Regions from separate parts of the Homo sapiens genome. Here regions 1, 2, 3, 5, 6 and 7 are each reported to be linked to region 4. Evidence: microRNA targets listed by miRTarBase, many of them from high-throughput screens and not tested one by one. Region 4 holds a microRNA gene; each other region holds the end of a gene's coding sequence.

Region 1 (4,344 bases), not on the chromosome of region 4:
AGTGCCTTCAAGGCCTGTCTACTGTGGTACCGGAGTGATTATTTCGATTGTATCTCCTTTACAGCTTGGTCCAGAGAGCTGCCTTAGACTATCCAATTGATCTATTCAAACAGCTGCCTGTTCCCTTAACTTGTCTTCAGATTTTGTCGACCCGAGATGGGTCCTGGCACTAGGAATGTAAAACCGTTCCTATTATTTTGGCTTGCTCCAGCAAAAGAGAAGCCCATGCAAGGCTCCTGCTGACCATGTTTCATTTCTAGCTTTGATGTCTGGGCACTGATTTCCCTAGATTTAACTATGTGCTCAATGGTAAGGCAGTGCTGTGGAAATCTGTCTGTGTAACTGGGGTGCTATGCAGGCCTGTCTGGGTGACTGTCAGGGACAACTGTCCTACCACACCAAGGACACAGCCCTGGGGGTGCTTTTCTTCATAGCCAAAGAAGCTGCAGGAAACCCACCCTAGTGGGACAAAGACCAATGCAGGGTCAGTCCCCACAGCCAGGTGATGCAAACAGGCTGGACGTGGGCCGCCTCCCCTCCAGCTTGACTTGTGACAGGGAAACCAATGCAGCAGCAGCAGGGCCACCAGAGTCCTGTCCTGGGGACAGGCTTCCTTCCAGCGGGCGGGGAGTGGGTGCTCCTGCCAGACCAGCCTGGCTTCCACGGTTCCAGAGACCCTGTTCTCCCTCAGCCCAGTCCCCGCCCCCACTCCTTGGCTTTATGAGTTCATTGGCTGAAGTCACCCGGAGACAATGCTGAGTGTTCCACCCCTGAGTCGAAGCCCAGCCCAGGGCAGCCCAGCCAGACGCCTCCGGTAGTGTAAATGAGGACAATGCCTGCTGGCCCACATGACGGGGGGATGTAGACGGCAGCGGCGCCAGTCGCTCCTGGCACCATGGACGATGCCACAGTCCTAAGGAAGAAGGGTTACATCGTAGGCATCAATCTTGGCAAGGGTTCCTACGCAAAAGTCAAATCTGCCTACTCTGAGCGCCTCAAGTTCAATGTGGCTGTCAAGATCATCGACCGCAAGAAAACACCTACTGACTTTGTGGAGAGATTCCTTCCTCGGGAGATGGACATCCTGGCAACTGTCAACCACGGCTCCATCATCAAGACTTACGAGATCTTTGAGACCTCTGACGGACGGATCTACATCATCATGGAGCTTGGCGTCCAGGGCGACCTCCTCGAGTTCATCAAGTGCCAGGGAGCCCTGCATGAGGACGTGGCACGCAAGATGTTCCGACAGCTCTCCTCCGCCGTCAAGTACTGCCACGACCTGGACATCGTCCACCGGGACCTCAAGTGCGAGAACCTTCTCCTCGACAAGGACTTCAACATCAAGCTGTCTGACTTTGGCTTCTCCAAGCGCTGCCTGCGGGACAGCAATGGGCGCATCATCCTCAGCAAGACCTTCTGCGGGTCGGCAGCATATGCAGCCCCCGAGGTGCTGCAGAGCATCCCCTACCAGCCCAAGGTGTATGACATCTGGAGCCTGGGCGTGATCCTGTACATCATGGTCTGCGGCTCCATGCCCTATGACGACTCCGACATCAGGAAGATGCTGCGTATCCAGAAGGAGCACCGTGTGGACTTCCCGCGCTCCAAGAACCTGACCTGCGAGTGCAAGGACCTCATCTACCGCATGCTGCAGCCCGACGTCAGCCAGCGGCTCCACATCGATGAGATCCTCAGCCACTCGTGGCTGCAGCCCCCCAAGCCCAAAGCCACGTCTTCTGCCTCCTTCAAGAGGGAGGGGGAGGGCAAGTACCGCGCTGAGTGCAAACTGGACACCAAGACAGGCTTGAGGCCCGACCACCGGCCCGACCACAAGCTTGGAGCCAAAACCCAGCACCGGCTGCTGGTGGTGCCCGAGAACGAGAACAGGATGGAGGACAGGCTGGCCGAGACCTCCAGGGCCAAAGACCATCACATCTCCGGAGCTGAGGTGGGGAAAGCAAGCACCTAGCATGACAATGGCCCCGTTGTGTGTGGTGGGGGTCGGGGTTGGGGGGCATGGTGCAGTCGGCCTTCACGTAAACTAAGTAGGCAGGTAGGATCTGAAGAAGGCACAGGTGCAAGTAAAATTCGTCAATTAAACCACTATTTTGATTACGTTCCATTAGCTTTCTTCCACTTAGCAGCAAAGACGTTCCTTACTGACCACCAAATAAACCACAGGGTGTGTGCAAGCATCAAGAGTGCCCAGTGAGGAGTGTTTTTCTCTGGGACTCAGCCAACCGCCCCACCTGACACACAGTGGTCTCCGGCCTAGGAGCACAGGACAGATGCTCAGGTACAGGCAGAATCACAGTGTGGCCTGGCCTTGTGGGGGACAAGAGGGCCTCTGCCAGGGTCCACCCACCAGGCCCACACTGTCTCCCTCTGACCTGGCCTTGTCCCCAATGCCCTGGGGCTGGCCAGCTCCAGTGGTCCACGACTCCCCCTGGCTTCCTGCAGTTCAGCCCCCTCTGACCTACCCCCACTCCCTCACAATCCCTCGCTCAGCATCCTCCTCTTCCTCTATTTCCTGGAGTCATGTGAGATTTCTGTCCTCAGCCCTCAAGTTCCCTGCCCTGTCCTCCAGGGGCAGCCCCAGCTGAGACCTCCCCGTGTGCCCTCCCCACCCAGTGGCTCTTCAAGCTGCTCAGCAGCCCTTGATGATGGCACACTGGCCGGTCTTTTGTGCTTCCTGCTGGGTCACCCATTGCTCCCAAAGCATGCGGCCCACTTGCTGGCCAAGTGCTCCAGGTGGTCAGCACCTAGACATGCTCCTCCCCCCTCCCTCCCCACTTCCTGGGGGCTCCCTTGGGATAACGTGCACCCTTTCCTAGGGGATAAAGCACTGAAGGCCCCACGTCCCCCACCCCTTAAGAGTCCCAGCCTGATCTGTCCAGCAACCCACTGTTATCTGGGAGCTCCTGTTGGTGGAAGTGACCAGGTGAGGCCAGGGCCAGCAGCATAAGATGGGCAGTGCCTATAGCAGAGGGGTGAGTGGGATAGTCCCACCCCATGAGCTGGAAGCCAGGTGCTGGGAGAAGGTGATAGCTGAGATCACCTGATATGCAGCCCCCACACAGTCCTATAACCAGCGCACCTCACAGCCGGCAAGCCCAGAGTGGAGGCTGCAGACCTGGGCCCAGAACCGCAGGGGAACCTAAGGGTACAACTTCCAAGGGCTCCGTTTCTCCTTCATATCCCCCCAGAGAAGCAGAAAGCACTGCAGGATGTGAGCTCAACTCAGAACACAGGTTCCGAGTGCCGCAGAAAGCAACGCCAGTCACCCGGTGCTCCCACAGCCGCCCCACCTGCAGCTTCCTCACCTGGGGGGCCCCTCGCTTCAAGCCCCGCAGTCCTGAGACGTGATGCAGGCCCCAGGGCAAGGCTAGGGCTCGTGTGGGGAGCAAGATGGAGAGGCAACCCCCCAGACTGTACCTAGGTGTTCTTTAATGACAGTTCAAGGGGCCAATTAAACAGCAAACAGCTTGGCAAGGCCCTGGGGTGTGGTGTGGGCACGAGTGCCTTGTGCCAGTCTGGCCCCAGCACAGCCCCTTTCTCCAGTGACTCCTGGTATGGTCAACAGCTTCTGGCCCAGGCCTGGGCCCCGAGAAGGCTGGAGTCCTCTGCTGGGTGTACAGCTGCCCTGCAGGCTCTGTGAAGCGTCTATGAGCCCAGCCCAGGCCTGGCTCTAAAAGAAGTCCGAAGCTTTGCGCCGGGCAGGGAGCTGCAGCAGGTTGTCCGTGATGGAGGCCGGGTCCTGTGTGAGAGGGGTGCGTGTGGCAGAGCCAGGCGCCGGTGTGCTTGTGGGGGTCTGCAGCCCACTGGCCGGGGTCTTGAGGTGGGTGGAGCGTGCTGGGGATGGTGTGTAGCTGGCCCGCAGGGCCCGGTCTGTGTACTTGCTGGCCGTCCTGCTCACAAGGCGCTGTAGGGCTGGCGACATGGCTGGGCTCAGGCCTTTGGGGGTGAGGCTGGGGTGGAGGAATGGGTGAGAGAGGCAGGGTTAGGTGGGCTGAGAGCTGCCGGCAGCAGGGCCTCCCTTGGCTCCCAGGAAGAGCCTGGGCAGAGACACAGTCACTCTGAGCTGAGGAGGATGGTACTGCCAGCATGGCAGCAAATGCGGGGGATCCCTGAGGTCAAACAGCAGCGCTCAGGTCAAACCTGAGGTCAAACAGCAGCACCGCCCTTGGCTGTGGGGGCTGGGGTGCACCCCCAGGCCTCTGAGAGTTGGAGTCCCCACCCCTCTCCAAGGGGAACGATGACTCTCTCCACAGGGCTGATGAAAGCTCCCAGCAGGACCACACGCCTAAAGATGCCTCTTAGGGACGGGTCAAAGAGGACGTG
Region 2 (4,344 bases), not on the chromosome of region 4:
CCCAAGATTAAGTAGGGAAGTCAATTTTATTTTAAAATTTTATTACATTTATACTAAACTCCTGCTTCCAGAAATATAATTTAGCTCTTTTAAGAGCACTAGCTTTTAAAATTTGAAAATAAACATCTAATTTTAAGTGAAAATTACATTAGTAAATAAACATGAGAAAATAATATATATGTAGTGAAAATAAAAAATATTTAAACACAAGAAACATGGGCACTGCACATTTACTTTGTGGGAATGGCTCTACTTCGTAACGCACCAGTTGAAATCAGATACTGTCTTCCAATGAAAACGTAAATGATTCACTGAAATTATAAGTTATTCAATGCCATCCCTCCAAAGGGATTCATTTTAATTGTTAATTCAACAATAATTAAATCATGCTCTTTATTTCTAACAGATTAAAAAAAAACTTAAAGGCCTATTACTCTACATTATAATTCTTGAATCTACACAGTATCTTCACTTGAGAAGGGAGTTAGATCAGGGTTCTAAGTTTTAAAATAAAGATAGCAACATAGACATAGGAATGACTGAAGGTCTTGAAAATTATTACTATCACAAAATAAATTCTCTTGACCCCCCCCCCCCCGACAAAAAAACCTTTTCATTATAAACGCCAGTGTTTATTTTTAATTGAGCAGGTCAAAATTTAAGCCTCTGGCACTGCCAAAGATCAACATAGCAGGTACTGAACCTCGTGAAGAAAAGAACTTGAAACACAGAGATCACAAGCTGACTAGTGTTTGCAATTATAAGCTAATTAGATAGAAAATAACTAAGATGATAACTGCAGAACTTCAGGATTTAAAAGTTTTGACACAAAACTTATGCACTAGCTTATGAACTGATGCACCATCTTATGATACTAGTTCAGCATACGTTGCTGAAAGGCAACAGAATTTGTCTACAATGATAAATAGCAACTACAACTTAAGGAAGAGAGGGTACTCTATGTAATCAAGCTACAAAAGATAATTACAGAAAGTATGAAGCATAAAATGTCTGTCTTCTTGGCCTTACCTCAAGTTTATCTGACAACATCTACCTGGGATTTAAAAAAAGAAGTCTTAAAGAAAAAAACAAAATACCCTGAAAGAAAAGAATAAACAAATGAAAACATGAGCTCTTTTAAGTGAACAGAGAAAGTATGTCTCAAACAGATACACACGTGCGCATGCGCACACATGGACACACAAGCACACACACACATCCCTCTAGACCCTAGAATGCCTTGCTTCCATAAGCCCATGTAAAAAAAAAGTCAAACCCTAATAACAATCTGATTTGTTCCTCCAGATCTCTTGTATTCCTACTCATTCTTAGTTTTTACAAATCAGTGTTTCAAGATTATAGTACGATTATTTTAAAGCTTAATAAATATCAGCAGAGAAAATAATTAGCAGCAAGAACCAAATTAAATGTTAATTACCAACATAAAGAAACATGTAATAGGTCCAGAGTACAAGAAAACACTCATACTTTAAATGACTTGTTTTATAGACACCACACAAACATGCACTCTCCACGTCACAACAATCTCTATGACAACTAAAATGAGCAGGATAAAACTAAAATGCTTTTTTGAAATGCATAAACAAACATTTTCCTCTAAAATACTTAGCTTTATTAAAGACATGGTACTAAAAATAACAGATTCCAACATTTGCTCTATTTCTACTTATATATCATAAATAAGACAGCTGTTGATGCAAGACACACTCTTTCACAATCTTTCCATATGCACCCAAGCATTCTTGTATCAGAATAAGCTGTTTACCAGCCAACCGTATGTGGCTGAATGATTAAAATGACCATCTATACTTTACATAGTAAAGCATCTTCCAAAATTTTAATGTACACAGTGACAAAAAGGAAAAACAAACAAAAAAAACAGTAATTCTGAACACATGAAGAGTGATTAAGCAGCTTCATAATCAAATCAGGCTTCATTACTTGCAACAAGGGCAACTCTTTCCATTCCCCACTAAATACTAAAGTTTCAATCTTATTAACATTAAAAGAAAACTCAAGTTGAAACCAAGTAACTAACATGCTATTCAGCTTTTTAGATCTAAAAAAGTAACTCTTCCCATGAGGTAAGGCAACTGAGTAATCTGATTGTATTAGATTGCATTAAAATAATTATACTTAACTTTTAATACACTAATTAAAAGGTATTACTTTTTTGGAAATACAACAATAATGAGTTCAGAAACCACAAGTTATAGTACTGGGGAAAAACATTAGCAGTGCTGTCACTTTACTATTTGCATACTTTCTGTAAAAAGTGAGCCTAAGAATGATGGATGACCTGTATCTTAAACTCAAGTAAACGTATCCTTAAACATAAAACCAATAACCTCCCATATACTCCTAAGTCCTTAAGTACAATTTCTGCACATCATTTATGAAAAGATGATTGAGAGGTAATAAGGCCATCCAATGTAGACAACTAAAGGGTTTTCTTCAATTTAAGGAAAATAAGAACATGTTTCATTTTCAATTATCACAGTATAAAACTGATGGTCCCAAAGCTGCATGACTCTAATGTCATTCTTGAAAACAGGACTTCCTTCTCATTTTAGGTGAAATCAGTAAGAAGCTCTTCTGACATATCACTTACACACTTCTCTATGGGTATGCATGAAATATCCATCTAGATTCCATATGAATTGAGAATGACTAGCACATATAAAATTCTAGAAAACAGTATACCACATTGTAGAAGGCACTAAAGCTTCAGCTTGTGCTCCCATAGCCCATTTTGAAAAGCCAGTTTCCTTTTTTATAAGGGCACCTTTGCCACCTACAGCTGACAAGACACACTGCAATATTATTCATAATAAGCTTGGAAATGTCAAGAAAATTTAAAAAGAAATGCTCACTTTGTGGGTAGTCCCAATGATTCTAAACACTGAATACTAATTCATCATTATTAGTATTCAACACGGTTGCTCTTCCTTTTGAAAGAGAACAGTAGCATGCATTGTCAGTTTTTTAATCCACTTATTTAAGCAATTTTAATCTGCAAAACTATTTTAAAGAAAAATTGTCCTAAACAGTGAGCAAAAGAAAACACAATAGTGAGAATTTAACACAATCACAAGTCCTGTGAAGTAAATGTTAAAACTTCTTACATACTTTGCACTTACAAGGGTGTGTATATATTTGCACCAATTTCAAGCACATCATCAAACTGTATATATTGAAATAAAAAAAAAAGTAAAACAATACAAAATTCAGTAACTAGCATTTTTTAAAAGAGCCTCCAATGCTTATCTCCAGTCTTTAGGGATAGTACAAACTTGGATCTTTGATGTTCAATTTATTTGCAATGGTTCTTGGCAAACACTAACAGACCACATGACAAGTGTGTCAGCCACCATGGAAATGCACAGATTTTAGAAGATGAGTTTGGGTAACATCTGTTATTTTCATGATGTCCATGCTTTATTTTCTTACTCAATAACAAGATGGCCACAAAGTCATCTAACAACTGGAAAAGCTGTTAGATCCTATCTTCATGCTCAACTAGATTTCTTTCCTGTTTACATCTTGTTGAGAGAATTAAAAGCTTTGGATTTGATTCCAGCATTGAGTGCAGAGGTACACTTGTCGGTCCTATACTGCTTCTGTTTTGGTAGAGAGGTTTTCTTCATTCAGCTGACAATTCCCATTGTGCTGTATTTTGTTTTCCTCAGTCCTTGGTGCATCCTTGTCATCTACTTCTTTGCTCACACTTGAATCTGGTTCTTTATTGTGCTCTTTCTCCTACAATGAGTAATTAAGGTATGCATTTAATATTTTCCTCAAGAACTGCCTGCTATGACGACAAAAATGTGAAACTTTATCTTTTGCAAATTTAAAAAACTGGGTATGATTTTCTCTCATTACGTTTTCACACAAAATGAATATGCAAACACTATCAATTTCCCCTTTGTGTTCTCATAAAAGATGGACAATCCATGGAAATTAAATTAGAATTGGTGAACAGAAATTTTAAGCAAGTGCTCAATAAATGTTGCTGACAGACTTGAAAAACGGAGACAGATCTATTGAAAGAGTGAAATAATTTCCAAGGATGCCAGGATAGATTTTTAATCTGCAAACCAATGCAGCAAAAATAAGGAAATGTGGAAAAGGAAGTCACTATGCCTCCTGGAAAAGGCTGTTCAAGAGCACTCCAATTTCTACCCTCAATTTAAAAGAGTTAAATGAGAACAAACAGTGCCCGGCACATCGTAAATGCTTAATAAATGTTATCAATGTTATTGATGATGATGATAATCGTCTATCAGTATTACAGTACATAAAACTATAAGATAGATGTTCCAA
Region 3 (4,296 bases), not on the chromosome of region 4:
ACTCCTTTGATCTCTGGCTGTGGAGACTCGGGACCCCTACCCAAGTATGGGACACTGCCTCCGTTGGGGTTATCTCAGATCAATGGAATGGGAACAAGCTATCCGGCCTGGGCGCCGTTCACGTCTCACATCTGAGATCGTAACACCGACTGTGCTTAGGACCTCAGCAATAACTTTTTGCCGTCTCTGGCCCACTGACTCCTCTCAAAATGTCCCCTGGTCCTTTTGCTATTCACGTATTTCTGTGGGCTTGAGATTTGCTTAACTCCTATATTGGCAAAAGGCCACTTGAAATCGCTAGCAGATACTCGATAACCTGAAAGGTAAGCCTGTAGTTCCTCCATAAAATTTCCATGCTGCCCTTCTCTCCAGTATAATTCAGATCTTCCTACCTTAGGGTCTTAGAACTAAAACCAAGATAAGTCAACTTCAATTCCACACCCCGAAACAAACCAGTGCATCCTGTGAATCTCCTACTAAAATTTCCTGTTGCGATAACATGCAAAAGGAGAGGTTCTAGTAAAATTTGCCTCTCAGCCCTAGTATCACCTGAAACTTAAGTCCACTGTGAAAGTCCCAGGCAGATAGCATCTTTCACTAATAACCCTGGATACTGCGTGAAGGTAGTCCTAAATCAACTTTTCAGGCAAATAAGCCCACAATTACTATACGTTCTAGCGAAGGGAACTCAGTCCCTAAAACCTTTCCCTGTGATTGTAAATTTATTTCTCTAATAGAATCTGAACTTGAGAAAGTAAGGTCCCAACAGAGAGGTTTATATAGTGATGATTCATTAATTAGAAGGATTTAATTAGAGGATTAGAGCCACCTTAAAAAGCCTCGTCCACCTTAACTCTTAGCAATGCCAATTCTTCAAGGTTTGAAAAGTCCCCCAGTCATTCCCAAATGACTGTTAAGAATGAAAGGGACTGCTTTTCCATTATCAATACTTTTGGGGAAAAAGGGCAAGAGGAAAGGGAAGTAAAACCAGTATTTATTGAGTACCTATTTGCCAGATACGGCTAGGTGCTCCCACATCCCATCTCTTAATCCTCACAACAACCCTGTGAGGTAGGTAATAATGATCCCCATTTTTACAGGTGAGGAAGTAGGCTCAGAGAAATTAAGCAGCTTTCCCAACTTCACACAGTGAGTAAGTACATCTATCTGACCCCAGAGTTACCCTTTTCTATCATGCCCCCGTAGGATATTGCCTGGGGACACCTGACAACAGAAAGTCTAAGGTTTTCATCTAGGATTGGGAGTTACCCCAACACCAGCAGGATGCAGGAAAAAGTAACTGACCGGATGGTTGCCTCAATCTGTTGATTCTTCAGTGAGTTAGCTCAGATTTTGTCCAGGAACAGCTTTCAGAGCCAAAGATTACGTATTGAACTTTACCAAGGCATCTGGTGACTAGAAAACTCCTGGAAGGTGGTCATAGCAGAAATTGTTGGGAAAGTTCTCAGCATAATAAAAGAGAAATTTTTATTTCCTTCATGATCCACTCCTACAGGGAAAAATAAATGGCAAATGAACCCATGTATGTCAAACTCTGTAATAAACACCAGTGAGATCACAGTGTCAGGAAATTTCAGCCTGAATTAAAGATACCCTTGCTCTTAAAACTTTCTTCTTTGATGTATGTGAAGGAAGGGCTGGAGGGCAAAGTCAAAGGAAAAGGCAAAATAAATTAACAAAATGGCTGCCAGGCAATGTTTAATGCCCTCCCCTTCCTCCTCCCACCACGTACACTCGCCTTTCCTCCTTCCATTGGGCTCACACTGCCACCTGCTGGCAATTCCTTGGATCTAATAGCTGATCAGTGGTGTTTGAAAGAAGAGTTTTTTCCCTGTCTAGGAATGATTGATTCCTCTGTATGCATTTATTTTAATAGGGAGGAGAGGTGAACATGTTTTTCAATCACAAAGGACTCTCCTCCCTATATATACTATGTTTTTAGGGAACTTCCACAATGTAATAGGCACTAGACTGGTATAATAATCTAGTGGTAGGAAGACAACCTAGAAATTTTCCTAGAACAAAGGGGGAAAGCTGTTTGCCCAGTTTCATTTAATTTTTTTTCTTCATTAGAGAGTTTCATTTACAACCCCTATGCTTTCCACAATCTGCAGGAAGCTTCAAGGTATGCATCTTGCTGCCACGGGCTGAACTCTCAGAAGTTAGAGCCATGGACATATTCTCCAATATATTTCTCAAGCACATTCTGTAGTGCTTTATCAAATCAAAGTGCTTTGTGAAAATATAAGGTATCTCATCAACTTAGACTATGAACTCCTTAAAAGCAATGACCACACGCCCTGTGTGGGTCCCAGGGACTAGTGGGTGTTCAACTATTATGCACTGAATTGAACTAAAGGAGTCAATGTTGTTATCAGTATAACCTTTTATCATAAAAATTATTTATTAGCTGCTTAAATGGGAGACTATCCCACTCCCACCAGCCCATTTCCCCTTTTGATGCTCAGTGAGCCAGGAATTTGTTCAAATAGAGACCACACCACCCTCTGGCCCTGCCTTGATCCGTTAGTGTTACCTGATTCAATTGAGGGAAGTAGGATGGACAGGTGGTCCCAGATGGGTGTCCTGTCCAGTTTGCAGTTATTCCCTGTTTGTTGAAAATACCACCACCAATACCAACCAACACAGTTCCTACAGTCTCAATCAATGAACAGCCAAGACCAACTCCCGTGCCCTCTCTCCAACCCAGTGCTGCAGATAGGAGAGAGATTTAAGTCTTTGTCACTGAAGCTAATTTTGAGAGCGATGAATGGGAGTAGGAAGGCATTTAATGGATCATGGAAACCCCACCCTTCCCATGCCCAACCTTAAGTCTCTTGTACCCGATTGTCCAGGGGACTGGAGGTGGGTCGCTGCCATGAGGAGAGAGATCAGGGAGGCCAGTCCTGGAAAGAAAAGATTCGCAGTATTATTGATCAGGCTGATTACCTGGCCTCTCTGTTTCCAGCTACTTTACCAATTCAAATGCTAACCTCCACCCTCGCCCGTCTGACCCCCAGTCATTCTAATTCTTCCTCCTAAAAGAGAGGAAAGCCATCCTGCCTTATTCTTGTCTCTGCTAAGATCAGGCTCTACCCTTGATCTCCTGTGTGCAGGAGAGAGACAGAAAAATAGAACAGAAGGGCTTTTCCTGAAGGGTGGGAGAGAGAGAGCTGCAGTCAGCTTTCCTATCTTCTACTCCATGTACCCTAATTTCTATTTTGCCTTGTTTCTGGCCAAACTCAGTAAAGGAATACACCCTACTGGTCCTCTCATTTTAAGGAAATCTCAGGTATAAAACCAGAAAAATGATCTATTAACTCAAGTGGAAACACTTGGCTATAATTTAGTTCTTTTTAAACCTAGCAAGGAAATGAGAAAACATGGGTCATTTTCTTACCTTGCTTGGGTGCAATTACTGCCCTGGACAATTACACTGAAAAATAAAATATCCTAAATGGCCCCTAGAATAACTCCAAACCTGGCCTGCTGCCCTGTATCCTCCAACTCCTACCCTTAGAGAATTCCCTGCTTCTGGAAGCATGGAAATTTCACCAATTGAGAGGTTTCACCTCACCTTTGTGACCCTTTTCTCTCGTCACCGTCTCACCATACCCAGGTTCCCTCCCCTAGCAGTCAAAGATCACAGCCAAGTCCAAGGCTTTTGCACACGTTCATCCTGTTGGCTCTGTTCCTGACCCAGGAAACACTAAGCAAAAGCTGTGTGCAGAGACCCCAGCCTCAGCCCTAGCCAGCTGGGAAAAGGTGATCCCACAAGGTGGTCCTTGCAATCATAACTGGCCCCAGCCCCATATCCCTCCGAGTGTCCAGCGGCCCATCATGACTCCAGCCGGGGTGAGGCGGCAGGACGGAGGTAGCTGTCTGACATGATGATGTCGCTGGTGAGTTGCTGCTCCAGGAACTCAGAGGTCTCCTCAGCTATCTGGCCTGGGATTCGAAAGTCAACAGCAGGTGGCTCCTGCTTGGGGCTGGGTAGGGGTCGGGAAACCCAGGACTCAGAAGGACAGCCAGTCCCCTGAAGGAACTGCAGGAAGTTCTCCTCAATGGAGCCCTCCCGGCTAGGCAGCCTCAGCTCCTCCTCTGGAGCTGGCTTGAAGAAGCAGACAAACTGCTTGCTGAGCTCCCCCCGGATCTGCCGGTTGAGACATCCATAGAAGAAAGGGTTGGAAGTGAAGCAAAAGTAGCCAATCCAGGTGACCACACTCTCCACCTGCCCAGTTGAAATGGGCTGAGCACTCAGGGCAACATAGAGGT
Region 4 (4,344 bases):
CTCCCCTGTTTGTAATATAATTATCTTCAAGATTTACTCTGCACACAACAGTGTTAGATTTTTTTTGCTTCAACCATCAAACAACTTAGAAAACTCAGTATAAGGAAAGCCTACTTTTATGTACCCGTATTTTTGCTCACAGTGTTCTTTCTTTTTTCTTGATGTTCACAGGCTTCTTCTTTAATTGCTTACTTCCCTATTGCTTTCGAAAATTCCTTTTGTCCATTCTTTGCCATCTGTTGTGGCATATTATCTTAATTTCCTTTCATCTGAGACTGTTTTGATGTTCTCTTTATTTCTGATATTTTCACTTGGCATAGGTCACTGGGTTGACAGTTTTCATTTCATATTTGAGAAATATTGGGCCACTTCTTTCTGTTCTCTGTGATTTCTGATGAGATATCTATTATTATTAAAATTGTTTTCTTCTATGTAACATGTCATTTCCCCCTCGCTGCTATTAAGATTTGCTTCTTGTCTCTAGTTTTCAGAAGTTTATTTTTATTTTTAATCAGCAAATAATAATTGTGTATATCTCAGGAGTACAAGGTGATGTTTTGATATATGTATGTATTGTGGAATGATTCTTCAGGCTAATTAACATGTTAATCATAACACCCATGTACTTACTAATTTTTGTGCTATTTATCTCCAAAGTTAATTTCTCGTGTCTAACTGGAAATTTGTATCCTTTGACCAACATCTTATTCCCCATCCCATCTTCACTCCAGCCTTTGGTAGCTACTATTCTACTCTCTACTAATAAGAGTCTGACTTTTTAGATACCACGTGTGAGCTCATGAAGTATTTGTCTTTCTGTGTCTGGCTCATTTCATTTAGCATAATGTACTCCAAGTTCACCCATGTTGTCACAAATCACAATTTCAGAAGTTAAATTATGATGCGTCTTGGGTTTATAGTCTCTGAGCTTTAGTCTGCTTCTCGAATCTGTAGGTATATGTCTCTTGCCAGATTGGTGGTTTTCAGCCTTGACATTTTTCAAGTCCTTTTTAGCCCCACGCTTTCTCCTCTCCTTGTAGGACTCTTTGACATGAATGTTAGGTCTTTTACTATAGTCTCACAGGTCACTGGAGCTTCGTTCAGTTTTCTTTCTTTCTGCTTTTTCTTTGTTGTTGTGACTGGCTATTTTCTATTATTCTACTTTTTAGTTTACTGACACATCTTCCATTTCCTCCATTCTGCTGTTGAGTTTATTCACTGAACTTTTTATTTAAGTTATTTTACGTTCAGTTCTAAAATTTCCATTTTGTTCCGGTTTCTTTCTTCTATTTTTTTTACTGAGATTTTCCATTTCTTTCCTAAAGCCTTTATTTTTAAAAAAATTTTATTATAGCTACTTTTAAATCTTTTTCAGATAATTTTTACACCCCTGTCATCTTGGTGTTGGCATCTATTAGTTGTGATTTTTTCAGTCTCTTTGAAATCTTCCTAGTTCTCGGTATGATGAGTAATTTTGTTTGAACTTGAACATGTTCTACTGCATGTATCTCCGTATTTTCAACCCTTCTGTTTTTAACTGTCTTTCCCTGACATCGGTCTAGGAGGGGAAAGTGAGGGGTGCTACCCTATCGGAGTAGCAGGTCCCCCATTCAGCATTCATTGGCACCAGAGATGAAATTGGGACTCCTCTGTGCTACTGGATGAAGAGTGGGAGTTCAGGCTACCTAGATGGCCTCTACAGTGTCACCTAGAGGATGATGGTGGAAGTCCTGACCCTCCAGTGAGCTGCTTCTGACACCACCTCAGCAGAGAAGGGGTGGACACTTCATTACCATCAGGGGTGTGTGGAAGCCCAGGATCCCCACTTGGCCTTTGCTGGTGTGGGTGTGTCACAGCCTTTTTCCTGTGGTGGCTGGCTATAGTAAAGTTTTCTGCTGTGCTTGCTAGGTTGTTTCTTTCCTGGTCTTTTAGCTAGAGAGAGCAGATTATTATTTTTATTTTTTCTGTGTATGTTGCCATTTCTGGGTTGCCAGCTTATACGATTTGAGTCTGAGATATATGAGACAAAATGACACTTAGGAAACACACTTCCATGGAATTTCTTGGTCCCAAGATACCCAGCTGGGTTGCTTTTTCTCTCTACTTTTATAGTCACCTTATGTTTGTTTTATGTATAATTTCTAGAGTTTTAAGTTGTACATAAGGATCAAGAAATGTCTGTCTAGTCCATTTTTCTAGGAGCATAAGTTAGTGTGCTCATAGATTTTTAGACATTCAGAATAGAAAAAAAGGGAAACATCTATTTGAGTTTTTTTAAAGACACTTTTAAAGATCTAAGCTGATTTATGTTCTATAAGTCTGTAAAACAAGGCCCTTGCATTGCCAATGAATTTAAACAGGAATAAGACTTATTAAAGACTTATTAAACACACATGATATGGCATGAGCTGCAGGCCAAAGACATTGAAATCACTGATTTTCCACCTAAGGGAAATAAAGATTATGAAAATAAAGATGGTTGATTGTGTTGTCTAAATTTTATTGTCTTTAATGATAATGTGTAGATGTGATCACAGAGTATATAATAAAGTTTATATGAATATATGACATTGCCAAATATAGGTGTCTAAGTGAGAATAAGAAATAAGTGAAAAGAAAACTAAAATTAGTGTTAGATAACATTGTTTCAGTGTTGGACTGGTTCAAAAAAACTGTGTGATCTTGAGCAATTATTTTAATCTTTTTGAATCTCAGATTTGACATTTTGGGCTAGACTTAAAATTATTTTCCAACTCTAAGATCAGCCATTTGATATATATTTTATAACACATTCATATACATAAGAAGATGGTGCCACATCTTGAATATTTTAGACATGGAGGCAGTCTTGGTAGTAAAATAGAACATACTGCTTTTCAGGAAGCAGTATGATGTGGGAGAAATTAATAAACTTAGATTGTTTAGACATGAATTTGAAACTTAGATATAAGACCTGTTGTTTAGTAAGCCGAGGACATTTCTTAATCCTTCTACACCTTAATTTCTGCTGTAGAATATGACTAATAGTTTATGCCTCATAGGATGCATTTTGAGGAGTTAAAACGTTAATTCTTGTAAATCCCCCCTTGAATTATGAAATTTAAAAAATAAACCAAGTTTAAAATTGTGTAACTACATTCACTACACACATACACATTTGTATAAACATGAATGATAACTATATAATTAATCATAAGTTGCCTCATTTCCTCTTTTGTAGGAATAATAACATCTAAAGAAAGGCAATTTGTTTTTCATCTTTGTATCTCCAAAAGCAATATACCCAAAGTCTGATGCATTGCTATGTTCAGCAAAATTCACTGAAGAAATGAGTATACGAGTAAATAAACTAAAAGACAAATTATAAAAAGGATGCTCTGAATAAAATGAAAAAAACAAAGAGCTTAAAAAAAAGAAAAGGCCAAAATCAAAATTTTGCTATTTTGAAGGCCTCAGCTATCCAGGGTAACTGATATTCCTATCCAGTAAGATAGGAATGATATTGCAGTAGGCTTAATAGTGTTTATTTCTTACACAATTCCTTTGATTTAAGTCCACATACATTTCAGTGATGGTTCAGCTTGGTTAGTCTTGCAAATTAAAGTATTACTGAAGCCAGACTGTCTGAAAAGAGATGTGTTCTTACAGAAGAATAATGGTCAGTATCTAGGGCAACTAGTGTATTCATCCAGAAAATAACTGGTGTCCCTTCAGCATGAGATACTGATACTGATGGATTGATTTAACATTTCCTAGAAACTTTCAATTTTTAGGCATCAGATAGAATTTATCAAAAGGCCAGCAGCCACCTCTCCTACCTGCCTCATTGTATAAATTCATCTACAAAGATTAAAATAACAGATAGCTAACAAAAGCCATTCTGCTCATATATATATATATATATATATGAGCACATTTCTTCCAAATTAACTTTGCTTACAAACTGAACAGAGGGAGAAGCATACAAATAAGCTTAAAAATATTTCCTTTGGTGAAATAATTGAGCAGATAAAAGGAAAAGTAGTTTTAAAAGTTTCATGTTTGAATTCATAAAATTCTCAAATAACTTATATTAATTTTTCTCTTCTCTGAATTTCTTATTTTTTGTATTGTTCTTGAGCAGGTTATAATGTGTTTTTTGTAAGTTTTACACATAAGAAAACTAACATGAATTTATTTGAGCTTGAGGCAATATTTCCCTGTGTTTGACTCTCTGAGAACATTTAAAATGATAAAAAAGATTAAAACTAATTATTATTTTAACCATTTAAATATTATTTAAACTAGTTTACAATAAAAACTCAGGTATTGTATGACTACAGCTAAATAACTCAAGCATGTGCT
Region 5 (4,344 bases), not on the chromosome of region 4:
TCTCCCTCCTCTCTGCTCATTCCTGAGTCAGCCATGAGGTGAGTTGTGATTTCCTAATGGTGTCCTGAACCAAAATGCAGGACACCCAGGACACCATTTAGACTTGCCAGGCCCACGGAGATGACAAAAAACTCAGCTCAGCATGGAATAACGTGAGCTGCGCACTTCATCGACAGCCTGCGTGTCAGAGGCGGGGTTACATCCCCACGGCCTGGGGCAAGGCCCACTCCCTAAGCCCTCAATTATGAGCAGGTTCTGTGCTATCAAGAAGACACACAGCCAACAGCCTCATTTAGGCTCTTGAGCCTTTGGAGGACAAGTCAGCTGTATCCCAACCCTCCCTAGCCTCCTGGATCTCTGCTTCTCTCTGGGCAGGAAATTGAATACTCTCCCAGCAAGATCACACAGACACATCCATGGAAGAAGCTGAGATGAAACATGACTCTCATAAACAGGAACTTTATTAAACTACATGTTACATAAAAGAACATATAAATGGACCATTAAATACATTCAGTTTATTTTAAACAAATTTACATAGATACTTATTTACATTTCTCCATTGTATTCTTAAATTATTTTTCCAAGCTTACTACCGATAAAAGGTAATACAATGATCATCTGCTCACACAGATGCATAGAGAAGTTGTCCACAGGGCTAAGTAAAGCACCACTTCCCAGGAAACACAGCTTATTAGATCTTCCAGCAACAACTCATGCTGAAGGTGCTCTCTTCTGAGCAGCCCTTGAGGTGAGGCTTTTGCTTTAGAGATGCTGGGGGTTGGTTCTGAGGAGCTGACCCAGGGCAGAGATGGGTCCTTGCTGATTGACCTGACTTGGACTCACAGAGGTGGAAAGACCTGTGGAGACCATCATCGAGGCCATGGCCCCACATCTGTGATATGGGAAACAGGCTTGGGAAGAGGTGGTGACTTCCCAAAGTCACCCAGCATCCATGATAGAGGAAGGGCCTGGGAGCTTGGTACCCAGGGTTCCTCCAAGAGGTCCCGATCCCTCTGCTATCCACAAATCCACAAACTTAGAATCACTTGCATCCATTTTCCACCACCATGGACCTTATGCTTTGAACTGTTTTGTCTACCTGATTAAATATATAACTTCTTAGGCTTCTTGAGATGGTGAAAAGCAGCTCAGGATTCCCATAAGCAACTTTGTGGAGCCCTGGAAATACCTACTCAGGGCTGTTTTTACAAGAGGTTTTGTGGTCAGGTGCTTTACTATTTCAGCCATAACGTTTACCTTTAAAACTCAGCTGACTTATGGAAGCTCAGCATTTCCAATTCGCTTAGATGACAGGCAACAGTCTGCAGAAGGGAGGTTCTAACGTCAACCACGTGGATTCCCCACAAACGCATCATATTTGCCTAAATCCATCTATCTACCAATGTCAGATCTAAAATGAGGTTTCACTAATAAGTGACCTAAAATTAAAAAAAACACAAAAAAGTTTCTTAAAAAAAAAATTCCAAGAATTTCCCCGTTTCCCAATTAGTCTCAGAGGAGTCGTGAAATGGGCATTGGGTAGAAAAAGTCCCATGTTTTCAACTGTTTCTTTTGAATAAAGCCTGATTCCCCCACTCTGCCCCCGAACTTTTCCCGATGATATACATTCTTCTGAAAGCAATTTCATGCTTTTAGTCTGCTTTAAAAAACCTGACTTGGTTCTTCTCAGTATTTAAAAACCACTGTACCAAGGAAGAGATGTCCACGTTAAAAACTATTATTAAGAGACAGAGACAAGGAGAGAGAGACTCTCTCCAGGCCATGTTAGAAAAGAAGGAAGTGCTGGGAGCACACAAAGAGAGAAGAAAGGCTGGGAGACAGAATGGTTTGCACCTCCCTGTAACCAGAGTGAACACAGGTCATAGCAGCCTTCACTCAGTTTTATAACAGACACACGAATGGAGGAACATGGGATTGGAAAGACGCACACTGTCAAACAGCCCTGATGCCTTTCCACTAAAATATGGCACTTCTAGATTCCAGAGAAATCCAGCATTCTACCAGGGGCTGCCACCCATCTGCAGGGAAGCCTGCCCTGCAACCATGAGGCCCTCAAGGCTCATACTCCACTGCTCACAATGCGCGCCCTGAATACATGGAAGCATCTGATTTCTGTCTGAGTCCAACTTTCCCTCCTGTTCCTAGACAGACTCACACCCAGAGTCATGCACGGAGAAGTGGGCAAGCCAGACAATCTTCAGGGAGACACAGCCCATCACAGGATACCCAAGGCTTATGGGGAAGTCCAGTTGCCAGCAACGGACCCTGTGTGGGCAGGTGAAACTCTGAAGCCAGAGAACACAGGAAGATAAAAATATCTTCATACTGAGGATATACTGGCCAAGTGTGGTGGCTCACACCTGTAATCCCAGCACTTTGGGAGGCTGAGGTGGGAGGATCACTTGAGCCCAGGAGCTCGAGATCAGCCTGAGCAACATAGTGAGATCCCATCTCTACAAAAGATAAATTAAAAAAAAACAATTAACCAGGCGTGGTGGTGCACGCCTGTAGTCCCAGCTCTGAGGGAGGCTGAGGTGGGAGGATCACTTGGGTCTGGGAGGTCAAAGCTGCAGTGAGCTATGATTGTGCCACTGCAGTCCAGTCTGGGAGACAAGAGCACGACCCTGTCGCAAAAAAATACATATGTATTTTTTTCCTGGGAGGCATTTCACTCTGCAAAAGGAACCAAAACTAGAACATTTCATTTTTGTTTTGTTTTGTTTGAGACAAGGTCTCACTCTGTCATCCAGGCTGGAGTGCAGTGGTGGGGTCCTGGGCTCAAGTGACCTTCCCATCTCAGCGTTCAGAGTGGCTGGGGCCACAGGCATGTGCCACCACACTCGGCTAAATTTTGTATTTCTGATAGAGACGGGGTTTCTCCATGTTGCCTAGGCTGGTCTCGAACTCCTAGGCTCAAGCAATCCACTCATCTTAGCCTCCCAAAGTGCTGGATTACAGGCATGAACCACTGCACCTAGCTAATTTTTATATTAAAAAGAAAGTCTTTGATATATAAAAACTGGCCTGAAAAAAACTTTTTTGACTTGTTTCATAAGAATGTCACTTTACACTCCTACTAAATCTTTCTCGGGATCCGGGCTTTGGGGGAGGGTGGGGTGCATGGGGGAGGTGCGGCCGTCACAGTAGTGAACGTGCATCCATCTGGACGCTGGACTGCAGCAGGGCTCAGCACAGCAGGCTGCAGTCCACAGGCCTCCTGGACTGTGCCATCCCAACAGCGTCACTAGCAGTGGCACCAGTGGCTGCTTTATCTGTAACAAAGACATGCTGCCTCTTTCCCCATCCTCGTCCCAGAAGTCAGTCTTCACCGTCTGAATCCCAGGAGGCAGGAGAGGACAGGCACCCATCACTTCCGTAAGGGATTGAGGATTCTCCCCAGCGTGGTCCGACTGGAGTCCTTCCGACGGAGGGAGGCCCTTTCCCCAGCCCCTCTGGCCTTCAGAGGGGCCTCCGTGTTGGCACTGGGACCCTCCGCAGACTCTGGGCGCTTCTTGGGGGCCCGGGCACTGCTGGCTCGCCTCAAAGTGCTGCTGTCCTTGGGAGCGGCATCCTCGGGGTCCCCTTTCACCCTCAGCTGCCGCTGCGACACTGTCCGAGTGATGCCGGGGGCTTTGGCCACGGGAGGAAGATCTGTTCTCATGCTTCGAGAGGAGGAGGCCACTGTGTTCCGGGCAAAGCTCGGGACACGGGGTAGTTCGTGGGGGACGCTGGGCACTGACGGGGTCTTGGGCTCTTCTTTGGGACTCTCAGGGCCCTCGGAGTGGGCGCGGCAGGTCTTATTTTCCTCAGGCTTCTGTCTGGGGAGGTTCCTGAGTGGTTTGGCACTGGGCTTCTTGAAAGAACCCCTGGGCTGCAGGGGAACGTCCCTCCCCGGACGGGTGCTGCTGGAGCCGCTGCTCCCCCGCGGCAGCCTCTGCTCTTCGGCGCCTGTGGAGGCCCTCCGCACGGAGTTCTGGCGTGACCACACAGTATCTGTGCTGCTGGGGGGATTCTGGGAGGGCCCCCGGGATGACAGCTCTGGTCGCCTCCAGCCGGCGCCTCTGCTGGACTTGGTGATGGGCATGACCTTGCGCATGCTCTCGTTCTCTGAGGCGGTCAGGGTCCGCACAGACTTGGCCACTGCCCCCTGGCTCCGCCGGGCGCTCCCGGGCTTGGAGGCCCCGGGAGACGCCTCTTTCAGGGAGCCTCTCTTTGGTGCTACAACATCTTTCCTTTTGGTGGGTTTGTCCCTGGGCAGGCCGCCCTTGCAGCTGGGCTCACTATCCACAGAGACGGGGGCAGGAGCCTCCCCAGGGGGGC
Region 6 (4,344 bases), not on the chromosome of region 4:
TTGGTCTGAGTAGTAGGAGCAGCCAAACTGGAATTAAAATGTTTGCTGTGAGTAGTTCAGAAAGGCAATTTTTCTGTGATTATAGAGATGAGTGCAACTACACGTGATAGCTCTGTCTTCATTCATTTTCTTTTTGTGGTGCAGGTGTATTTATGGGACCCACAAATATACCATTTACCTCACAAGCACCAGCTGCATTTCAGGGCTTTCCATCGATGGGCGTGCCTGTGCCTGCAGCTCCTGGCCTTATAGGAAATGTGATGGGACAGAGTCCAAGCATGATGGTGGGCATGCCCATGCCCAATGGGTTTATGGGAAATGCACAAACTGGTGTGATGCCACTTCCTCAGAACGTTGTTGGCCCCCAAGGAGGAATGGTGGGACAAATGGGTGCACCCCAGAGTAAGTTTGGCCTGCCGCAAGCTCAGCAGCCCCAGTGGAGCCTCTCACAGGTAGGGGTCATTTACTTTCTAGCTTCTCCCAAATCAAACCAGATTTATTTTCTAAATCTTTTTTTTTTTTTTTTTTTTTTTTTTTTAAGTCTAGTGATCTGGCAGAAAGAATTCAATAGGGATAATATGTTATAGGGTCAAAAGTATCTATAAATATTATGAAGTTGTATCAGATAGACAAATGATGTGTTATTATCGCTATTTTAGAGTATTCTGTAAAAAAAAGGTTAAACATCTTTCATTTCAAATTGTAATGTAACTGTAACGTGAACACCACTAATGGCCAGAAATTATCTCAGGCATCATGAGACTCCCTCTCTGTCACCTCTGAGATTAGCACTAAGCTTTATCCAGCTTGCTGGTGGGACATTTTTACAGTCCACTTAGACAACTTAGCTTCACTAATAATTTTAGGATCTTTTATTAGAAAATAAAAATCTAGCCTCATATTCTCAAAGCACTATTTTATGAGGGATCTAAGGCTATTTTTCAGGTCGGATGATTACTGCCCCATGGCTCTGTAAAAATTCTTTTTGTTGAGAAACCTTTGTAAAGTTGTATTTTCTTTTTACATACCCTATAATGACTTTTATGTTTAAAAAGAGTACAAAAAGATTCAATTCCCATAAGGTGTGAACCAGACATCCCCTCATATTATAAAATCCTATTTCTACCTAAGTTAGAGCTGAGATAGAACATTTCTATTTCAGGTGCTGTGTTCTGACTTTTCTCTAGCTGCACAGACAAAGGCTCTTAGAGAGGTTCATGCTCCCACTCTTCTTCCTTTTACACTTCCCATTGATGTTCCTCCAGCATTTTGGCAATCTTGGTTTCTGTTTGGTCACTTGTTTTACCTTTAGAGCATTCAGGGAATAGTCTAGAGTGATTTCTAACATTAGCACAATCACTATATATCACAGTTAATTTTGCTACCACCATTTACAAGAATATAGGTAAAACATTGGTCTCTACCCGCTGGGAATCTAAAAAATTGTATGTGCTAAGTGTCAGTCACATGGTCAACATGCTGAAGCACACCCAGCTCAGGTTAAGGTGCTAGATGAACCAGGAAGGAGTTAATACTGGCTCTTACTTCCAGATAATGCAGAAGGGTGATGCTGTTCTCCAGCACTCCATCAGTGCAATCTACTGGCCAATGACAAGGTGGTTAAAATGTCCTTTAGTAGGTATGAAGACGTGATCTGCTTCTTCAGACACTTATGCCTGATTAGTGATGTAGTTTATGTTAGTGTCTTTGAAACTGTAAATAAGTCAAGTCAAATGTATTAAATTAAGAACACAGTCTAACTCTGAGTGTAAGTTTTAAACCCACTCACTATATGGTAAATCTTGCCTTTCCTTCTCTTATCACCAATTTTGGAAGTAAGAGAATCACAGGGTTAAGATGCTTATATATATATATATTTGACTCCAGTCTTGAAGAAAAATACATGTAATCTTATGCTTTATTGCATACAATGAAAATAAATTTTAGATGTTTATGTTGTTAGATCAGCGAGAGAAATAAATGCTTTATGACCACTTTAAAAATATTTAGGAAGTATATAAGATTTTAATAGAGAATAATATCTATCATACAAAGTTTATAGGATAATTTTAGACTATTTTACTTCCTAAAATTTTCTTACTCCTTAGTAGTTAAAGCACAATATCCTAGTGTAGGTGAAAGTTAGTTAGAGTAGCGGACTCATTAAAATCCCAAGATTGCTTTGGTATTTTTTTTTAAGTAAGTTGTGGTTAATCTTTGGGGAAACTGTATCTAGAAAGTAGATAAAGAAGGGAACAAAGTAGCTATTTGCTTTAAGAAATATTTGTATGGTACTCTGTTTTTATTCCAGTGCTTGGACTAGTTGTCACATTAATGAAAAAATGACCAACTGTGTGGCTAAAGAAACAAGAATTAAAAGTGAAGTAAGCCTCTTGAACTAAGCCTTTTATATGTTTCACAGATGAATCAGCAGATGGCTGGCATGAGTATCAGTAGTGCAACCCCTACTGCAGGTTTTGGCCAGCCCTCCAGCACAACAGCAGGATGGTCTGGAAGCTCATCAGGTCAGACTCTCAGCACACAACTGTGGAAATGAAAACTGCAATACAAGTTTCATCCAGAACTACCACCTGACATTCCTTGCTGAAACGCATCTAGTTCCCCTGTTTATTCATATGCATATTTTTTTTCTTTTTACCCATTTGTTCATATTAAGAATGATCTGATTGACCGTGTTGGTCTGTACTGATTCAATTTGATGTGGTGAAAAGCAGGTTGATAAATCATTTTATGTCAAGGGCAGCTTTGCTCATATTTCCCATGATTTCATGTACTGCATTATTTGAGAAGCTGCTCAACTTGCAAAATCAGTTTTCCTCTCAATAAAATTATAGCTCTAATGTTTGCATATAAGGGAAGTAGTTATCATGTTAGTAATACCTCTAATAGTATAAACCCCACCCCAAAATTAGCCAGTAATCCTGTAGGAAGGTACTGTATGATCAAATGTTTAATCATATAAATAGAATGTAAATGTCTCACTGAGCACTGTTTTCTAGTGTATCAAAATGCTCTTATTTCATCATTCACTTCACTGTGCTGTTGTTATGATGTGCTTAACAGGGAACGTGATTAGTGAAAGGAAGATAAACGTGGATGTTACTCCAAAACTTCGTTTAATGAATGCTTAAAGAATTCAAATTTTATCTGCCTCTCTTGTAATTTGGATCTCTTCTTAATGTACATAGTGCTAACATGAAGACCTTTTTCTGCACTATATGCAAACAGGGTAACTAACTAAAACAAAGCCACTTTCAATCTTCAATCCTTGAAGGTATATCTAGGTTTATGACAGTAATTGTGTTTACATTTTATGGTGCCTAGTATTGACAAAATGTTATTTCCCTACATTAAACATGACTCCATAGACCTTTTCATTTGTGGGTTTTTATTTCCTATGATGTATACTGCCACTAACCTTCCAAAAATTACTTAGTATTGCAAAGTCAGGAATCATCAGGAACGTTTAGCTGACAAAATACTTGTCTGTTTTAAAAACCTGTTCAAGTCTACCAACCTGTTCAAGTCTACCAATTATAAGGGCAAATTGGAGAAAAAGAAAAAATATATACTCAAGAGTGGTATCTTGCAGTATCGGCACTGTACAAAAAAATCTTCCAATTTAGTTGTTGTAGAGAAAACATGCAGAACAAATGAAGACAAAACATACATTTTGTACCAACCATCCAATTAGCTTATGTTAACTGACAAGCTCCATTTAAACAGATGTCCATCAGATGACAAGAAAGGCTGCTGTACTGAAGTAAAACAAACAATACCTGAATGCTCTGTAGCCTAAACTCCAAACATCCTCTTCCATATGGATCCACTGGCTGGACAAACTGCACCAGTTGCTGCTTCAATTTATACCTCAATTTTCACTGTGTCCAGGTGGTACTTTGGCTCGTTGGCTAGATTAACCTTCTCTGTCCGAGTGTGCCACACGAGAACCTGAAGGGGAAGGAAATAGCTTGGGTAGCGCACTCTTCATGGTGACACTCGAGGTCGGGCAGCACAAGTGTAATGAATACCTTAGTGCAGTTATTTGCTTTCGGTTCCAGTTCTTCGACTGTTGTTATCTGTTTGAGAAAGTCAGATTCTTGCATCCCTGGCTGGGATCCACGACGCTTAAATACAGCTTTTGGATTGGACAAAATGACTTGAAGACTTACAGCAAATCCTTTGTGAAAAATAAAAAAAAAAAAGAGACTTTAAAATCCTGGTGTACTTCTCTTTTTTTCTGTATAATTTTGGTCACATCAAAACAGTTTTTAAAATACCTACTGTGTGTCAGGTCTTGGTTTACAAAGTTGAATAGGAACA
Region 7 (4,344 bases), not on the chromosome of region 4:
TAATTAAACTTGCTAAAATCACCACTAGAAAGTTATGAAGAGGACAGGGTATTAAGATTCCAAAACAAAATTAGGTATTTCTGTCTACTAAATATCATTCTGAAACCTGACACACTGGCATTATAGGGTCCAAAAAAGTAAAATTATATGCATTACTCACTTCAGTAGTTTTTGGATTCAGAGCTAACTTTCTAAGTTACAAAGAGCAAAAACATGTTGCTGAAAGATCTTGCCTGAAACTACAGCAAAGGTGTTTACAAAATCTTTTCTGATATTCATAGGAAAACAAGCAATTTACTGTATTGGAAAAGGAAAACATATGATTTCATTTTGCATTTCCTTTAAGAAAACAGCCTTATCTGATGAGATTTGGGTAGCCTGTAGCCAAATACTTCCACTGTGTTCCACTTTTGCAACCAAAATTATCAAATGAATTTTATTTAAATGGAAAAGTCAGTTAAAACCAGAATATCCTTTGTCCAATCAGTCAATAAACTATTACCATACTGTCAATTTTCCATTCCATAAACAAGATTTCAAAAACAGGTATGAATCTGGGGTAGCAGTGGTTTGAAAATTAGGATTCAATTTAAAACAGAGCTAGAATCCAAAATTTACTTGCTGAAATGTTTAAGGTCTTTAATTTCAAAACACTTACTAAGCATAATATATCCAGAGATTGGCAATTAATTTTAACAATTTAGGTCTTTAGTAAAATTAATGTGGGCAGAAAATGTTACTTCATTACAAAGTGTTACTATATACTTTGTCTTGTGACTAACTAGAGCTTACAGGAGTATAAACAAGTTAACTGAATTTTTCAGTGGCTGAGGATTTTGTATACTTCCTCATTTTGAACTTCAATCATGACTATATAATCATATTCATACATCTGAGACTGAACTAGATATAAAGATATCACAACACCCACTAGAACTGGTTAATTAGATATGCCCATTATTTCTTCACTATTTACCGAAGAAAAGTATGAAGAAAAAAAGACTAATTTGGTTTAATTATGGTTACATAAAAATTATGTAAATATTCAAACATTTGATGAAATCATCATACTCCAACCATAAAGAATTGTAATTCCTAATGGTTAAGCAGCTTTCAGATATCATTAATAAAATACATGACTGTCATTAAAAAAATTATCATTCAGTGCTATTGATTTTATAAATAACCTTTTAGGTTAGGCCCTGCCATACCAAATTTCCTTCCTGCCTTTTTTTTTTTTTTTTTTTTGAGACAGACTCTCGCTCTGTTGCCCAGGCCAGAGTGCAGTGGCGTGATCTCGGCTCACTGCCAGCTCCGCCTCCTGGGTTCACGCCATTCTCCTGCCTCAGCTGTAGCAGCTAGGACTACAGGCGTCTGCCACCACGCCCAGCTAATTTTTTGTATTTTCAGTAGAGATGGGTTTTCACAGTGTTAGCCAGGATAGTCTCGATCTCCTGACCTCGTGATCCGCCCGCCTCGGCCTCCCAAAGTGCTGGGATTACAGGCGTAAGCCACTGCGTCCAGCCCTCTGCCTTCTTTTAAAATAAATCAGGTAGACCTAAACTAACTTAAATGTTCTCATGAAAATCAGTAAACAGCTTGGTTTTGTATTAACTTTTAGATCTCCTCAGGAACCTACATGTGACAAATTCCTAAGTTTAACACCTTAATATTACTAGTAAGTAGCATGAGTGGTAGACTATGTCTGGACTCCACATCCTGCCACTTCCATTCCAGTATCTGGACCACATCACCACTAGGAGTATGGAGTTAATCATCAGTATGACACAGCATTGAAATTCTAAGCACTGCTGTTACTAATTTTGTTAATGTATGCATATAAACAGGTATATAAACACTAAAGCCATAAAAGAGCAGTATCTATTTCTTTAGTACTAAAAGAATTTCAACTGTTAGAAAAATGAATTGGCTTAAGAGACAAAAACAAAGCAAAACAAAACAAAACATGCATCTTGAAAGTTAAAAACAAACAAACTGAAGAAAAAGCCAGTTGAAGTATTTGGATTTAACTTTACCCAACTAAGACATTCACACAACATATGCATGTCAGTCTCCTGTTCAGTCCTAGAGCCTGCAGTATTGTAATTTATTGTAAAACCATGTAACCAAATACTTAAATATATCCACAACATCTATACCACAGAAATGCATAGTACATAATATACTAACATCTCAAAATAAACTTCTATTACAGTTTTATGCAAATTATGGTAAAAGATTATCACCTGCCACATTTTGAAATGGCACCAACTTCAACATCAATGCACTAGTCAAAATCCTTACTAGAAGTGATGTCTTCTGCATTATCATCTGAACATTCAAAATCAAGCTGTTAATCTAATAACCACAGTATGTTATCATTTAAAATCACTGTATATTTGGATGTTAAAGCAGGTAGTAATACAGCAGGAAAAGTGTTTCTAATTCACAGTTTCAAAACTAAAGGGTGCAGTTTTCAAATATCTGATTGCTTAAATTGGTCACTCAATTTAACAACTGCCTCCTTCAATACATGTAAACTATGTTTGCACAGCATTAGGAGATGTCTTTTATTTCAGAATTAGTTCTTACTGTTACAGGAGCACCACAAATTTTAAGGAAGAGGCTACAGTGTGAAATGAGCTCACTGAAGGATATGTTAAATAAAATTTTAACTACAATATAAGGTACTGCAAAAGCTTTGTTCCCCAGCACAGATCCCTTAATCAGGAAAAGTAGTGAACACTTACCCAATACAATATGTAAATTCGCTCTACAGGAGATGGGGAAAAACCTAACTCAACTAAAAGAAAATACTATTATTAGCTAACAAACCTGTGATAGCTGGCTTCAGAATTTTCCTAAAAATAAAATTCAAAAGCATACACAGTATTTATATCCTTTGATAAGGAATGTAGACATCCAAACGGAATGAAAGAAAAATCTGGTTTTAAGAATTTCTAAGTGGAATCACACACACACAAATGGGTAACTGAGAAAAACTAAATATTCAAAATTTAAGTAAGAAGATTTATAATAGAAAAAAGTGGCAAATTGTTACTGTGACTTGATTTTCTGAAAACATCTGCAAATTCACACTGGCATTAAGAAAACCCAAGTCTCAAAAATTCTCCTTTCTTTCTCTCCAGATAATGTGTTTTCTGTGCAAAAATAAATATCTGAAAATTGCACTAATACTTATTTTAACTTCTATATTATGAATAATCTGCACATGCTGCTTTACAGACGATACATATTTGTAAACTTACTCATGCAAAATTAGTGTGCGCAACAGGGATATTGTTAATTTTCATACTTAAAAATGATACCTTATTATCTTTTAAAAATTGCCAAACTCTCTGAAATGGTTAACAAATCTTATATGGATATTCTTGTCTGCCAGCTAAAAATCAATTTATGTTGCTGAAAACAAAAAGTTATACAAGAAAAAGAAACATGGTTTTTGTTTTGCAAGATTTTTGATTTTTAAATGAGAAAATTTATAAAAGAAAGAAATTCATGGTCACAAAATTTTAACATTTTAATCCTAAACATTACAGGGTAAATAGATACTGGACCCTATCTCCATACTCCATAAAATCCTAACTTTTAGTTTCCATTTCAAATGTTGCTGTAACCACTAAAACACTAGTGGTTTTACAACCTCTGGATTATGGAAATACACATTTCTGAAATAAATGCTACAAAAACAACAATGGAAGAAAGCCAAACAAACAGTCTCCATGAAGGAAAAAAAAGTGGAACATTTTGAAGCTTTTAGACACTTCTCTTTCCATGTCTTATGATTAACCTGTCAATTCAGTGCATTGTATGGTCATATGTAATGGTCCCCATGGTGAACAAACATCTAACTAGTGTCCATTGATTCCAAGTTAGTAGATGATGAATCTTTCTGGATACTTTCAAAGATAGCCGCCAGCTCAGGGTTAGAACTGATCTGTGACTGGAATTCACTCATCAGTGGACTCTTCTCTGCTTCTGGAATGGTTAGCAGTGCTGCTACTGCTCTCATGGCAGATCGCTTTAATTCATCTTGTTTTTCAAACTCCTGCTTTACTGAGTTTGCCTTTACCTGTAAGATGGAGTAAACTTAGATTACATGCTATAAAAGACAGCTCTTACATGAACAAAATTTAAGCACATAAGATCTTCCTGCTAAAAGCTACTCTCGTAGGTCCATAAGGCATATTACATTCTAAGAACAACTGTTTTTAAACTTATTTTTAAAGTAGCTGTCTCCTTTTCTTTTAAGGGAATATTTTACACAAAGCCCCATTATAAAAACAGAAAATCTAGACCCAAATGATTGTAACAAAGAGAGTA

The links. The annotated mature microRNA hsa-miR-7157-5p reads UCAGCAUUCAUUGGCACCAGAGA and lies in region 4 at 1,611-1,633, shown strand. An mRNA with a match to its seed (bases 2 to 7 or 8) in the 3' UTR can be bound and repressed. Matches are read on the target gene's strand: a 7mer-m8 pairs with bases 2 to 8, a 7mer-A1 pairs with bases 2 to 7 and ends in A, and an 8mer does both.
Region 1: the mRNA of ESS2 is a reported target of hsa-miR-7157-5p. Seed matches in the 3' UTR shown: 7mer-A1 at 2,508-2,514.
Region 2: miRTarBase lists SREK1 as a target of hsa-miR-7157-5p. Seed matches in the 3' UTR shown: 7mer-m8 at 3,599-3,605 and 7mer-A1 at 880-886.
Region 3: the mRNA of GPR61 is a reported target of hsa-miR-7157-5p. Seed matches in the 3' UTR shown: 7mer-A1 at 1,466-1,472.
Region 5: miRTarBase lists FHDC1 as a target of hsa-miR-7157-5p. Seed matches in the 3' UTR shown: 7mer-m8 at 2,015-2,021 and 8mer at 1,289-1,296.
Region 6: the mRNA of B3GAT2 is a reported target of hsa-miR-7157-5p. Seed matches in the 3' UTR shown: 7mer-m8 at 1,263-1,269.
Region 7: the mRNA of CAND1 is a reported target of hsa-miR-7157-5p. Seed matches in the 3' UTR shown: 7mer-m8 at 2,552-2,558 and 7mer-m8 at 1,789-1,795.

What each region holds. Positions count from the first base shown.
Region 1 is chr22:19,130,505-19,134,848 of GRCh38, forward strand. It overlaps ESS2 (ess-2 spliceosome associated protein), which reads right to left. Exons shown (of 10, transcript NM_022719.3): 10 at 1-3,971. The coding sequence ends at 3,692. It overlaps TSSK2 (testis specific serine kinase 2), which reads left to right and starts at 804. Exons shown (of 1, transcript NM_053006.5): 1 at 804-2,118. The coding sequence starts at 896. The coding sequence ends at 1,972.
Region 2 is chr5:66,178,155-66,182,498 of GRCh38, reverse strand. It overlaps SREK1 (splicing regulatory glutamic acid and lysine rich protein 1), which reads right to left. Exons shown (of 12, transcript NM_001077199.3): 12 at 1-3,780. The coding sequence ends at 3,631. Among named protein-coding and RNA genes, the nearest start is that of LINC02065, 29 kb to the left of the region's middle.
Region 3 is chr1:109,543,942-109,548,237 of GRCh38, reverse strand. It overlaps GPR61 (G protein-coupled receptor 61), which reads right to left. Exons shown (of 2, transcript NM_001393907.1): 2 at 978-4,296. The coding sequence ends at 3,860. Among named protein-coding and RNA genes, the nearest start is that of GNAI3, 2.5 kb to the left of the region's middle. RefSeq lists enhancers at 37-96, 4,009-4,296 and a silencer at 1,611-1,847.
Region 4 is chr2:140,583,952-140,588,295 of GRCh38, reverse strand. MIR7157 (microRNA 7157) reads left to right here and starts at 1,611; the gene lies at 1,611-1,670. The region is part of intron 43 of LRP1B (LDL receptor related protein 1B); the gene reads left to right. RefSeq lists a silencer at 1,783-1,832.
Region 5 is chr4:152,975,771-152,980,114 of GRCh38, reverse strand. It overlaps FHDC1 (FH2 domain containing 1), which reads right to left. Exons shown (of 12, transcript NM_001371116.1): 12 at 444-4,344. The coding sequence ends at 3,392. Among named protein-coding and RNA genes, the nearest start is that of FHDC1, 42 kb to the right of the region's middle.
Region 6 is chr6:70,857,778-70,862,121 of GRCh38, forward strand. It overlaps B3GAT2 (beta-1,3-glucuronyltransferase 2), which reads right to left. Exons shown (of 4, transcript NM_080742.3): 3 at 4,053-4,201; 4 at 1-3,972. The coding sequence ends at 3,886. SMAP1 (small ArfGAP 1) reads left to right here. Exons shown (of 11, transcript NM_001044305.3): 10 at 145-452; 11 at 2,423-4,226. The coding sequence ends at 2,557. Among named protein-coding and RNA genes, the nearest start is that of B3GAT2, 97 kb to the right of the region's middle.
Region 7 is chr12:67,312,355-67,316,698 of GRCh38, reverse strand. CAND1 (cullin associated and neddylation dissociated 1) reads right to left here. Exons shown (of 15, transcript NM_018448.5): 15 at 1-4,093. The coding sequence ends at 3,869. Among named protein-coding and RNA genes, the nearest start is that of CAND1, 45 kb to the right of the region's middle.